Linked DNA regions of Homo sapiens: region 2 is reported to be linked to region 1. The links are microRNA targets in miRTarBase. Many come from high-throughput screens and were not tested one by one. Region 1 holds a microRNA gene; the other region holds the end of a gene's coding sequence.
Evidence for each region. Region 1 holds the annotated microRNA hsa-miR-3166 (CGCAGACAAUGCCUACUGGCCUA, at 2,573-2,595, shown strand). A microRNA usually pairs through its seed, bases 2 to 8, with sites in the 3' UTR of a target mRNA and lowers its output. Matches are read on the target gene's strand: a 7mer-m8 pairs with bases 2 to 8, a 7mer-A1 pairs with bases 2 to 7 and ends in A, and an 8mer does both.

Region 1 (7,120 bases):
TTTTCTGAAACAGAAGTGGCTAGTTTGGGTCCAGCACTTATAACGAAAGGTTCCTGGTGTCACAGACCATGAAATAAGACTGTTTGAAGTTGTTCCCATGGAGAATCCCAGAGGACTTTAAAACTTCTGAGCAGGAAGATCCTTGACCCTTGCCCAACTCCTTTCCACTTAACAGCGATGCAACTGAGCTGAAGAGACTTGTCCAAAGCCACTGAGCAGGTTAGTTAGTGGCAGGGCTAAAATCTGTAATGAGGGGTTGGTCATGCGCAGGTTGCAAACAGCCTTGTCCAAGGATTCACACTTGGAGTAGATACATTGCACCCTCACTTTTGACTAGGCCTAACTTCTGGTACAAACCTGTGGAGTCAAAATCTGATTTTAAATATTGTAAAAAACAAAAACAAACAACCTCTCATTTTTCAGATCTCTCAATGAAAACTTTAGGGCCAAATCAAGAAATCATAAGGCTATCATAGGCCCTTACATAAAAATGGCCTTAAAATATACACACAACCTCCTTTTCATAGAAGACAGAGAGCCAGAGAGATAGAAATACAGAAAGAGAGGGAGAAAGAATACTTTGCCCCTGACATATACACACAAAAGTACTTGGCTTACTGTAAGCAAAAAGCAAAAAAAAAAAAAAAAAAAAACAAAACAAAAACCCTCAAACTCCTTTGTCTTAAGGGCAGAGAGAAAGGTGACAAAATTTGAAATAAAGTGAGCCACTGAAGACAGGAATGGGCAAACTCCAGCTAGCCTGGAACTATCCCGGTTTCCTCTGTGAACCAGCCTAGGGGCTTCCCCTCGGTCCGCCCCTGCACGGAAGGACGTGCGTGACACTGGGCTGCGTCATTGGCAGAACTGCCCGCGCCCAGAAAACGAGCTGGAGTGGAGAACAGAATGCAATTGCAGACAATCTTCCTCTGGTTCCCTGGGGAGGCCTGCTCTGGGCAGAGAGATCCCAGGGGACTGTGCGGGAAGGAGCTAAAGCAATAGCCCAAAAGCGCCAGGGAATGCACTTGAAGTTTCAGACGTTTTTCTTTTCTTTGAAACTAAGTTTCCAGCCCACCAGGAAAAACTGCCTCGCGACCTAGTGATTTTAATCTCACGCTTGGCCGCAAGCCGCTGCCTCGAGACTGGAAACCGGCCGCGAGGCGCTCTATCCCCCTGACCCCCTCCCCCCGCGCTCACCTGCGATATCCCAGAGCTGCAGGCGCACCACAGTCTCCGGGTCCCAGTGGAGCACCTTGAGCGCGAAGTCCACGCCGATTGTGGCCCGGTAGTGCGAAGAGAAGTTCTGGTGCACGTAGCGCTTGATGATACTGGTCTTCCCCACGCCCAGGTCGCCAATCACCAGCAACTTGTACAGGTGCTCCTTGTGCGGGGCCTGCATCCTGGCGGCCGGCCAGACGTGCCGTGCCTGACCAGGGAAGCGCAGCCTGGGCTCTGCGCACGAGAGAGACTTGGGGAGCGCAAGTGTAGGTGCAGAGAGAGGCGTGGGCGGCGGGGCGGGGGCTGGGGGGCGGAACTCCTCCCCTAGGGGTTAATCCTCCTTCCTACTCCGCGGTCTTGGAGAGGGGAGGAGACAGGAGCGAGTCCCGGGACTGGCAGCTGAAAGGGGTTCGCGTGTGGTTGCCTGTTGCAGCGCTTATTTATCCGGCGCTTTAGAGTTTCCGAAGAGCTGTTTTCACCTGTGACCCTGGCCACAAACTTGTGAGGTGTGGATCTTATTTTCCACGTTTTGCTTGCGAGAAAACTGATTGTGAAAAAGTACTCTGCGGGAGATGGCCGGTGAAAGGCCCCGTTGACCACAGGTCTGAAGTCACAGGCTCTTAACTACCCCACACTGTAGAGAGAAATTACAGTATTAGGAAGCCCAAGACTGGCTGGGCTTGGTTCCTGCGTGCCCTGGTTTTTAAGTTGAGGGACCATAAGTAAGTCATTTGAGCTCTCACAGCCTGTTATTTCTCAATGAATGGCAATGCTGACCTCTGAGCAGCTTGGAGGTGGGAACACTGAGCACTTTCACACCCATTCAACTGGTAATCAGTTAACAAGGAGGACAACTGGGCCGAAAATGCCAAGGGCACTGGTGACTTTTAGCCTCTTCCCATATCCTAAAAACTCAGAGCTGCACAGAAAGACAGTTTTAACAATCGGTCAGATTATTACAAATAATAATAATGGCAAACATTTATTGAGCACTCGCTATATGCCAGAGGGTTTATAAATTATGTCATTTAGTCATCCCAGCTGTCTTAATAATAGATACCATTTTTCTTCCTATTTTACAAATGAGGAAGCTAAGGACCAGACATTTTAAGTAATGGACCCAGAGTCAAATAGTAAGGAAAAAAACCAAATTCAAACATAGGTCTTTAGGTTCCCAACTTCTTTTTGTTGTTTTTGTTGTTTGTTTTCATTCATTTGACCAATATACATTTTATTACCAATTAATATATGACAAATTGTACTTATTTTGTCTTGTCTGTCTCCACCTACAAGAAGGTAAATTTTTTTGAGGCCAGTAGGCATTGTCTGCGTTAGGATTTCTGTATCATCCTCCTAACGCAGACAATGCCTACTGGCCTAAGAAAAATTTACCTTCTTGTGGGTGGAGACAGGACAAGACAAAATAAATACAATTTGTCATATATTAATTGGTAATAAAATAAGGCAGAAAGGGGATGTGAAGAGATTATATGGGGTTTGCCTTTTAGATAGGGTGGCCAGGGAAGGTTTCAGTAAGATGGAGACAATTTAGTAAAGACATAAAGAAAATGAGAAATTGGGCATTCAGGGCTAGGGGGTGAGCAGTTTATACCAAAATGAGCTATTTTGTACCTGAATGTGCTGTGAAGGAGCTCTGCTCACATTCTATCATTTCATCTTCTCAATTGCTTTATGAAGTGGGTTATTTTCTTCAATTTATAAATAAGGAAACCAAGATTAACAGCAGCTTTCTCAAGGGCACACATAACTAGTATGTGTTAGAACTAGGACTTAAACACAGGCCTGTGTGAAAGGGAGAAAGGAGGTTTGGCAAGGCCATTGTCTTTCTGCCTTCCTCTTCTGGCCTGACACTCCCTAAACTTTAGCCTCCACATGCCCCAAACAAGCAGAGGGATGCTGAAGATGTGTACCCGGGACAAGTCACATAACCTCTGAGCCTTGGTTTCCACATCAACGAAAGGAGAATGATAATACCTATGGCAGGGCATGGTTGCTCATGATTGTAATCCAAGCACTTTGGGAGGCTGAGGTGGGTGAATCACTTGAGGTCAGGAGTTCAAGACCAGCCTGGCCAACATGGTGAAACCCGTCTCTACTAAAAATACAAAAATTAGCCGGGCGTGGTGGCAGGTGACTATAATCCCAGCTACTTGAGAGGCTGAGACAGGAGACTATCTTGAACCAGGGATGCAGAGGTTGCAGTGAGCCAAGATCACACCATTGCTCTCCAGCCTGGGTAACCTGAGCAAGACTCTATCTCTAAATAAATAAATAAATAAATAAATAAATAAATACAAATGAAATTGTTGATAAAATGCTGGGTCCATAGTAGGTGGTAAATAAATTGTAGCTATTACTATGAAATGAGGGACAAGCTTAAAATACTGTCCACAGGCACTGTCCTGTGCAGTTTCATCTTTCCTCAGAGAGTAACTCAGAAGTTTTGCTCAGAATGGACACTAAGTGACAGTGTGTAGAATTGCAGTCGTTTGTGTTTTATTGAAGTGCTTAGCTGGGTAGGCCTCATTTACTGGTTTCCACCCATGCGAGGACACACCAAGAAGATCACATCTAACAAGTGAGACAAATACTCTACCTGCTTAAAGAATTAGCCAACAATGTCACCTCACTTCCCAGGGAGGGGAATTCAGTAGCCCAAGATGCTTAAGCCATTCTAAATGCCTGCAAAATTAGGGAGGATGACAAAATGAGACCTTTGCCAGCTCTAAAATCCTGGGTCTGTAAATCTGAGAGACAGGCTTTGTCTGGCCAACAAGCTCCTGGGGTAGAAACAAGGTAGGAGTTTGAGACATCTTGTGGGCCAGCCTTCAAAATTATACCCAACCCAACTTTCTTACCAGCCCCGTACTGTTTTCCCAAGCCTGGTCCCGGCAGAGTCATCCTCACCCTTATCTGTTCTCTTTTGAGCAAGAGCATATTGGAACATCAGACATTTGGATTTATGAGGTAGGACAGGCAGGGCAAAGTTCAGGATTTCTGGTCCTGAAGCTGATAAAATTGGAGGAAGTAGCTTTTTGAGCAAAAGAATGCAAAATCAAAAATATATAATTAGGTCTAGGGCCTTGGAAGGGGTCCTGAAGCTTCAGTTTTATTGCCTCTCTGGGGGTAGGAGATTCCTCTCTCAGGGACAGCAGCCAACCATGGTGAGCAAGTTCCTTGGCCAGGCAGGAAGTATGTGCAGTTTTGTTTCCAGCCGTACTCATTTAGGTCTCATGATCATTCTTCACAGTGGGAAGAAATTACTCTCGGTTTATATTTTTAAGACTTTTAGATTACAGTAGCTTGGTAAGCACCCCAGCCTAGCAGTTCAGTAAAATCTTCGTAAAAGGCGCCTAGGTCTCTGAACCTGAAAGTCCCTTGGGTAAAATGAGGGAGTTAGGTTGCAAGATCTCTGGAAAGTCCTTTGGACTCTAAAATATCAGAATTCTGGGTCTTCTAGACATTGTCTAGTAGGAGTGACACCCTAGCTGATTCTAGTCACCCCACAAGAGCACCACTGCCAAAGAGGTGATGTTTTCTCTCCTCTTTTAGGTTTGGAAGAAAGGCCATCTCAAAGCAAACATGATGCCATAGTTCTCCTCTGGTTTCATGGTGCTATTCTTTCCTCTGCTGCTGTACATTTTCCCACAAGACAAAGGCAATCCAAGAACATTCTTTTTGGAGGACAAACCTTCATGTACTCCCCTTCCTTGCTTTGAACTTATTTTCTACACTCAGAACTAGGCTGCAGACAGGGAGCCAGGTAGCCAGGGACAAACTATAAACTGGATCAAGCCAGACAGTGAATAGATGGAAAGGATATTATCAAGCAGCTAGACCATTCTTGCCTCCTCTTTCATTCAACCCTGTCCCCTGCAATTATGATGCTTCTTCAGAACCTATCTTCCCCAACCTGAACATATACCTGTCAAGATGGCTTAGGATTATCAGGAGGATCTCAGCTTTTTCTGACACAAAAGATCCAGTGCTTCCTCCCCATGGAGAGAACAGCTGTGCCATTCGTCCCCCTCCCAGCAGCCACACTGCACCATGGAAACCTGTTCTCCACAGTAATTCTCAAAACATCTCTGGTGATGTTTTGACAAGCTTACTACCCTCAAATTGCTAAACCACAGCACATCTTCTCACCAAGGTCGGGAAGGCTGATGACTCAAGTTTGTAAAAGGTGTGTGAGACCACAAAGTGCTCAGAATTCAAGCCAAGAATGATATCCCAGAAGGCACAGCATTAGGTTTCTCTTAGTCTCCATTCCCTTTCTGTCCAATGTGGGTACTTAGTCTTATGAAATGGAAAAACTACAATGATTGCAAATTGCTTTGCAAATGTAAACTTGAAGGGACAAACCCTCATGTTTTCCTCCTAGAGCTGCTGTGTTTGGTGAGCCCCTGTGAAGTCACATTATTTGCTTTTGCCATTAAGAGAGCCATGGGGAGTTATTCATTAGCTTATGTGAGCTTTTAATTATTGCTCTGAAGAAATATGTAAATGACTGCAAGATGGGGTCCCAAGGGCTCTGTTATAGAAAAGGTAATCTAATTTTTCTTAGATTAATACAAGAAATATATCTTACAACAGATGAATTTTACTCTGCAAAAGGCCTGGAAGAAATGACCATATATTTTATCATTCAAACTATGACTCTTGAGAGTGAAAGGGGGCACTATGAATAATTACACCAAACAACAGGAACAAGCCAGGACTTTCCTAAAGAATATTCATTCCTAAAGAAGAGGGAGAAGTTGAGGCTCTCAAATGAGATCTACAGCTATAGGGGCTTTGGAAAATTCTCCTAAACCACAATTTTAATAAATAGGTCTGCCAAGTTAAAGTTGCAGCTTATTTCTTTCTTGTCTTCAAAAAGTTCTCTCTTTACCCACTAGGCTTGTCTGAAACCTGTGCTAACTTGCAATTTGAGTCATCTAGTATTGATTCAGGATTGCAGCAGATGTCTAGAAGTAGGAAGCAACTTTTGGGTTATTTGGAGAGAGGCCAAGATGGATTCTGTATGGGATGTTCTTGAAATAAATACTCTTCAGTCTATGAGAAATTTCTGGCTAGATTTTTTTCCAGAAAAAAAAAGACTACAATAGGATATTTACGGGTTATCATGAGAAACTGATTGTAAGTGCATTTTTTAACCCACCAGTAGTATGAATCAAGAAAACCAGAGTATGACCTAAACCATTTTCAGCAGTGTATTTATCACCAACTAAAATTATGTGCCTTAGCTGTGCCAGACAGGCATGGCTGAATCGGGGTGTATTTTTCTACTAACACATCTAACATGGATGAGTGGAAATAAGCTATGGAATGGCCGAAAGGCAAGCATCTGAGAACATGGAGAAAAATGATTCTGTATGTACTAGAATTTCAACTTCCTTATCCTGGGAACCTACAATGAGCTAAGCCCTTTATCTTGGTAAGTTTATTTGATCTTCACGACCACTCTGTAGCAAGTATCTTCACTTTATAATGAGGGAAATAGGGCTCAAAGAATTTAAATAATTTTTCCAAAGTCACAGATATGGAGTGACAGCATGAGAATCGTAACCAGTAATTCCTAAATCTGTGCTTTTTCTACTATACCACACTCCTTTAGCATGTGATAAATTCCAGGTCCAGGCTTCTACTGTAGCTTTGTTTCTGCTATGCTACTAAATATTCAGGCTATAAAGAAAAGAGATTGATTCTATTTCCATTTGATAAAGTCTTAACTATGCAGGGAAACAGCCAATAAAGGAAGAAAAGAAAAATCTATGATTCAAAGATAAAAGGATATATCCCATAATCTCTCACCAACTCGGGCAGAAAGTCAACACAAGTAAAAGTGGCATGCTGTGCATTTGTGGGGAGAGGTCTGACC
Region 2 (7,120 bases), not on the chromosome of region 1:
TACGCATTTCCATCGGATATGGAACTAGCTGCTGTCTAACCTGCAGGTAACTGCAGCATCTCGGCACAGGCACTTTCAGCAGAGCTTCTGCCCTCTGTCTACCATCTTTTGTAGCCAGTAGAATGCACACAGTCATTCAGACATGACTGTGTGTGCTGGCATCCTGTGCTCACTGCCATGCTGATGCTCACATGCTATGCCTGCCACAACTTCCTGCCCATGCTCCCCAGGTCTCCTCCTACCCCGCAGTGTCCTGTGTGCCCCTGCACATGCCTGTGGCTTCCCGGGCTTCTGACCACATCCACACCATCTTTGTGCCTCCTGAGAACACAGACCTGTACACACAAATGAGTAATCTCCCTGTTCTTGGCCCTTCCGCAGATCCTTGGACCTCTGGACCACGATGACCAGTGTGGGAAGCAGAAACTGGCCTACAAACTAGAACAAGTCATAACCCTCATGAGCTTAGACAGCTGAGAACCGTCCTTCCAGGGCCGCCCTGGAGGGGGACACACCAAGCCGTGCCTCAGTCTAGATTATCATCTTTACCAAGTGCAAGTTCCGACTGGCATCAGCAGCATCCCCTGAGCAGCGCTGTTTCTCTCTCTTTCTCTCTGCCTCTTTCCGTTTCTCCCTCCTTCCTGGATCTCTTCTCTTCCAGTTGCTCTGCCAACACGATTGGACCAAGCCACTGACCCTCAGTTAGTCCAAGAATGGCCAGGCCCATGGCAAGGGAGCTGACCAGAAGATGTCAGAGAGGCCTCTGTCTCCCAGGTGCTCCTGACCCTGTGCATGTCAGCAGCAGGGTGCAAATAACGAATGAGGAGCCAGGGACAGGGGACATTTCTGTGCTGCTACTTCACCTTCCACTTTGGCAGCCCCTGCTTTGGTCTGAGCCTTGGCCTAGGGAAGAGGCAAGGAAGGACTTCAGTATTATCTTTACTGGGAAGACATCACCTGGCTCTCCCTTCCCACAGTTCCATCTCCAGTGGTTCAGCCAGTGGTCTGATCGCTTTGCAGCTGTGAGAAGAAAGGCTACACCTCCTGCATGTGGCTGGAGCAGGGCATGTGTGGGCAGCTGGGAGGTGCTCCTTGAGGCTCCTTCTCCCCCACTGGGCTGGTGTCCAGAGGCTTCCTGTCCTTTTCCAGGTCTCCAGAGGGACCTGCCTGCCCTGCCTGCTCCCCCGCCAGTAGAAAGCCAGGCAGGAGAAAGAATAGCAATTACATTCCACCATGGAGATGCTCCTGACCTTTTCATCTGAATCCTAGTAGCAGAAATGTAACACAGGGGGAGAAAAGGAAAGAGAGTTGCATCTACCCTGGAAGCAGAATTTGTTTTCCATTTACCCTCAAATTCAAATGAGTCACAATCATAGTCATAGGTCTAGTCCACTACCAGAGCCCTGAGTGCTGTCAAGAGAAAGCATCTATCTCCACCCTCCTTTGTCAACCTTCATCAAGGGTCAACGTGAAATGCAGAGTGCATCTAGGAGATTCTACCTCCAGCCATCTCCATGGCTCCATCCCCATCATCCTTCCTGAGAACTCCATAGACGGCTGGGGCCAACAGCCTAGTCCCTGTTCCCTCTGCAGAATCCGGTGCCATTGCTATGCAGATGACTTTGTCACTGGGCTGTCCAGACCTCTTTGGGAATGATTTCATCAACATCTCAGCTGTCTCTCATCATTCTCCTTCCTCATCTCTTCAGCAGTCATCCTTGAAAGAAACAGACTTAAGCAAAGCCTCACGGAGACAGCCCAAAATGCCAGCCAACCTCAGCCTCCAGCTTGTCAGATCTGGGAGGGACAAAGAGTCGAGCTGATGGGCCTGGCTGGAATTAAGAAGAGGGACATACAAATGACCTTGGCCTTGGCATCCATCTCCCCATCTGTTCTTACATCTACAGATGCACGATTTTAGCCAGGCAGGCAAATGTGTGCCTAGAAATTGATACTAGGTAAGCAGAGGCTATGGGGAGAGATGGTCTAATGGAGGGTTCTAGGAACCTTTCATCCTAAGGAGACCTTAGGTGCTGTCTGGTGCAGTCTCCCATCCTAAGCAGGAGTCTCTGTTGGCACCTCTGCTCTGGAGTTGTTCACCACTATGGGAGACAAGGAGAAACATCTTAGGTGAGGTTGAGGAGAAGGATTCACAGTCTTGCCTTCACTCCCCAAACATCAGACATCATTCCTTGTCACCCACTCAGAATGAGCCCCCCTTGGGGAAGAAACCACACCATTTCCAGCAAAGTCCATGGAGCATCCGGTACTTTTAAGAACACTTGCCCCTTTGGATATGAATATGTGCACATGTGTGTGAGCACATGTATGTGTGTGTGTGTGTCTGCCCCAGGTGTAGGCGGAAAGCTCAAAAGGATTTCTTGTCCTTTGTAGGAGGATTTTTGAAGTGTTCCCCTTCTCTTTCCCCTTGCTCATCCATTCATCCTGCAGCTTCAGGACATTTCAACACTTACTTGCTTTCTATGCTGAGAGCTGGTGGGTGGAAGGAGAGGGCGCTTGTCCATAGGAAATCAGGGTGGTCGCCTGCCGAGGCCTGGACCTTGGAACAGGGCATCATGTGACATCGCAGAGGACAGATGGTGGAAAAGACATGAGCAACCTAATGGGAAGAGGAAAATGGGAAACAATGCATTGGAAGAGGAAGAAAAAAAATAAATAACCAAAGGTTTTGGCAAGTGCAGTACCAGGTGGAGAAGCTTGACTTTTCTATCCTTGATCATTTTATTCCCTCCCAAGAAGTCAGTCACAGGACCTGGAAGGCCAGAAAGGGTACATGTGGGAGACGGTCTGAGGAAGTACCTCGGTCACTACAATATTTTTGCACATATAAAGGGTTGGGGAGGAAAGAGACACAAACGTATTTAACACAGATTTGCTGGATGGAAGCTGCGTGTGTGAACGTGTGTATGAGTGAGTGCATTTTGATTTTTTTTTTTTTTTTTTGCACAGTTAAGAGAAAAAATCAAACAAGCAGAAAAAAAAAAGAAAAAAGACTTATCACGGTTCTGCTGAAGCTTTTATTTTTTACTGGATGATGATTATTGTTATTGTTACTTTGGCGGTACAGGACTTTATTTTATTCCATGTTTTTGTTATAAGAAAAATTTCAAACACCTCAGAGAAATAGAAAGGTTAGGAAGAAAGAGGAGACAAGGACAGACAAATTTTCTGGCTGTCCCCATTTCTCCTGGGGGAGGGGTTTGGGGCTGGTTTGACTTTAATTGGTGGGTGGGTTGTTTCTGCCGCTCTGTTTGCTGCAGTCCCCGTGGCCTGCTTGGGGACTGAGAAATTTGAGCCAGGTATCCAGAGCCACAGCCCATCTTGCTTATAAAAATTATCTTCTGCTGTTTGTTTTCCATTTCTTCCGTTTGGATTCTTGGTGCACGTGTGATATGGTATTTAAAAGCAAAGACAAGCAACATTGTCAAAAAGCTGTCCTTGCCCCCCATCCCCCACCCAAATCTTTTTTCCAAACTCCCCCAGGGATCTTCCTTACCCCACTGGCAGAGCAAACATCCAGGGGCTGTCCATGTGGCTTGCGGGCTCCCAGAGAAAGGAATTGGGCCAACTTTGTCCTGTGGGATGGAGGCCCCTTCACGGCCTCCCTCGAGGCAAAGTTAATTTGTAGGGTCACCATTATGTTGAGTCATGAGCAGACAGAAGGAGAGAAAAGGCCATCTTCCTTACCTTCCCCTCCAACTTATCCCGTACCCTCCCAGGGAAAATGGTACCAGACTGAGCCATCAAAATCACTGACAAAGTTTAGGTGGGAATTTTTTTTGCATGTTGGAGAGAGAAGGGCTTAAGGTAGCAGGGAAGAAGGGGGCTTTGTGGGGTCCTAAATTTTAAGGAATAAGTAGAGGAAGACAAGAAACAGAGTGGTAGGCTGGTCATTTCTCCTGGCCACAAGTCCCCCCAGATGCAGCTTTTACCCATTCTTTGTCCTTCCCCATAAGGAGAGACCCTGACATTTCTTGGTAGCTGCAAATAGTGCCACTAAGTGAAGGTGGCCATCATGCCAGTTACTTCCTCAGGAAAATATTTTCTTGCCTTCTTCTTTCAGTATGGTTTTAAATTTGGGAACAGTGGATAACCCAAGTGTCCCACAGGCCAAGGTACATTCCAATGGCAGCATGATCCCTGCACCCAAAGCCAGCCCCTAAAGCCTACCCCTTGTGCACCCGCAGCCTGGTAAGTGAGCTTGGCTGCTTGTGAGGAGCTACAAGTGAAAGAGAAGTTATTTTAAATAAATCCCAAAGTTTGAGGCAGACTGTCCAGGACTGTTCCCAGGAAGAAGCAGGAGTTACCCACAGGAAAAGTCTCTGACCTGGTCCCCTCAGGCCCAGCTACCTGCGCCCACCAGCAGTGAAGGTTGATGTACTGGCCCAGCATCTCCACCTCCCCCATGCAACCAGGTCCCTGGTACCGTGTCTCCCGTTGCATGTCTGGCTTCTGCCTGTGCTCCTCCTGCCACGAGCATCCTCCCTGTCCCTCCTCATTCCACCGTGTCTCTCCTGCACACATAGCCTCTGTCCCAGGGCGATTTATCCACTTGAGTACAGGAGCTGCTCAGACCTCTCAGCCCAGCCCTCTGTGACTGCCCCAGCCCCATCCTACCCCACCCAAAGCTGCCTTCCTGGCTGTAGGAGCTCCCTCGTCTAGCCAAGGCCCTATGGGTCCCCATCCGAGGATCCACAAGCAATGACTTCCCAAATGACCTCCACTGCAAGAAGAATCCTTACCACTGTTTCCAGAGCCGTGAACGATGCTGTGATGGGCCCAGGTCTCAGCACCACCCTCTGTGACCTAAAAAGAAAAGCTCAATTTCCATCTGTCTTCTTTCCCAGGACCAAGGGGACACAGTAATGTGAAGTCAAATACTTAACCGAGCAAAGGGCCAGTATTGTTATCAGTCAAGGACAAACCTCCCACCTCACAGACAGCCAAGCAGTGAGGGAAAGACAGACAGACATAGGTAGGAAGGTGCTCTGCAGGCACAAGGCCCAGAGAAGCCCCTCTCCGGGAACTTCCCCTGCTCCTTCCAGGAACAGTGAGCCCAGTGAGCAGCCCCAGCCAGCTCTTCAAGGCCTTCAAGGGGTCTTTCCATGACTGAGTCACCTCCAGGAGCTCACCTGACCCCCAGAGAAGACCTACCCCAGGCAGCTCCGTGCCCTGGCTTCTCCCCATGCCCCAAATCCCCCCCCGCCATCCCTCCTGGTCCTCGTCTACATCAAGGGCCTCTTCCCCTCTTCCTGCCAGCTCTCAGGACAGGTGACTGGGAGGCCTTGAACCCTCAGCCTCTTCCTTTAAAAAAAACAAAACAAAACAAAACTGTGGGCCATTTATTTGGGATTTTGGAGTTGTTTGGTTTTTGTTTGTATATCTTAATAGTTCGAAAGTAAGAAGGGAGCCCTGCTATGGATGTTAAGTCCAAATTACTCGGTTAGTGGGAGCAAAACCTATGACTTCCAAGGGGATGAGGAGAGGTTCAGAGGACAGGAGGAGCCTCCCCCATTGAAAAAAAAAAATGGGTCAGGACATTCCCTGGATGAGGACAATGCTAGGGGTGGCATCTCACATGGCTGCTGCTATTCCTGGTGCTTCCCCACACTTTTGACAGATGGAGTCCTTCTCCTACCGCCTCCTGCCACCTCACCCTACAGGCATTCTCTATGTAGGAAACAAGAGCCTTATTTTATAGAGTGGGGAGCTGAGACACAGCCTCAGGTAACACTGACACAGCTCCCGAATGAGGCTGGGACACTCTGCAAACCTCTCCTCATGGTGCTAAGGGTGGCATGCTCTTGACAGGAAACCTAAATGACCACTCCTCTCATTTGGAAAGTAATCCACTGCAGTAAAAGTTTCAGACATGCAAGAGAGAGTTTTTTTTTTTTTACTACAAATTTTTGCTCCCCCATAAAATTATTTTATTAGAGGGAGTATCCAAGTTTTAAAAGTATATAGAATTTTTTGGTTGTAAGAGAAATACATACTCATTAGGATCCCGATTAAATTCCTTGAGTAGACTGGTGCCTACCAGAAAGCAAAGCAAAGTTAAACAAAACGAAACAAAATCCTTCATATACAAAAAGAACTTTCTGTTTGTATTGGCAGAGGTAGTGAGGTGATTCAGGTAGGCTGAAAATCCTGGGTTGCGGGAGCCTCACTTTATTCCATTCCCACCCGCTTTGATGTCTATGCTTGGCTCTCTGGGCTGCCCCTGGTACTGCCGAATCCTACACATCTCTTATCAGCTTTCCTCAAACTTTAAGGAGGCTCTGTGAGGGATGGGTCATGGGAAGACCCAAGCTTTCCCTCCGCCAGGATTGCAAAAGCAAGTAGACTTGGTCTATGCAGCTCTTCTTCCAGCAATTTCTTTATTTGGAATTAGAACTTCCTTTGTTAGTATCTTTGATCTTTTGACTCAAGCACATTTTGGAAGGGCTCCCTTACAAAAGTAGAATTTAAAACAGAGGATACAGTTAAAGAGCAACCCAAAGGACGCTTAAGAAACCGAGACCACTTCACCAAACAGGACTAAGGAACACTTTCGTGCACAGAAGTCAGCCGCAATCCAGGCACAGGACGAAGATGGGATACACGTGCTCATCTGTCTGTCCTCCTTTCCTCTCCCTCCCCGACGTTCTAGTTAGCTTGTTGACTTGTTAAACCTTCTGTTCTTAAAATGAAAAGCTAGCTTACCTCAAAGAATCTTGTTTCCATTCGGAAACCAACGATTTTGTGTTTTAGAATGGACAGCCCTCCCCTCACCACTCCCTACCTTGGCCTGGTGTCCTTGAGACATACGGTCTTTGCTTAGTCGTGTGTTGGCTGCTTTGAGCAGGAACAAGGCCTCCAGGCCCTGAGGTGGGAAGGAAGGATTGGATGCCACTGCCCTCCTCCCCACTTTAGCATGTAGGGGCCAGCCCATCTCTTCCAGCAGGGTCCTGCTGAGTTACCATAGCAACCAGCAACTCCAGGGTACCACAACAGACAATGGCTCAGCGAGCCGACGTGTGGGGATGATGCAGGGGTTTTGGCCCAGCCAGAGGACCCAGAGTTGAGCTTCAAATGCTAGAGAAGGGGAGAAACAGGA

Region 2: miRTarBase lists PLXNA4 as a target of hsa-miR-3166. Seed matches in the 3' UTR shown: 7mer-m8 at 2,342-2,348.

Annotation. Positions count from the first base shown.
Region 1 is chr11:88,173,989-88,181,108 of GRCh38, forward strand. It overlaps MIR3166 (microRNA 3166), which reads left to right and starts at 2,514; the gene lies at 2,514-2,605. It overlaps RAB38 (RAB38, member RAS oncogene family), which reads right to left and starts at 1,455. Exons shown (of 3, transcript NM_022337.3): 1 at 1,195-1,455. The coding sequence starts at 1,396.
Region 2 is chr7:132,123,836-132,130,955 of GRCh38, reverse strand. It overlaps PLXNA4 (plexin A4), which reads left to right. Exons shown (of 32, transcript NM_020911.2): 32 at 382-7,120. The coding sequence ends at 477. Among named protein-coding and RNA genes, the nearest start is that of PLXNA4-AS2, 130 kb to the left of the region's middle.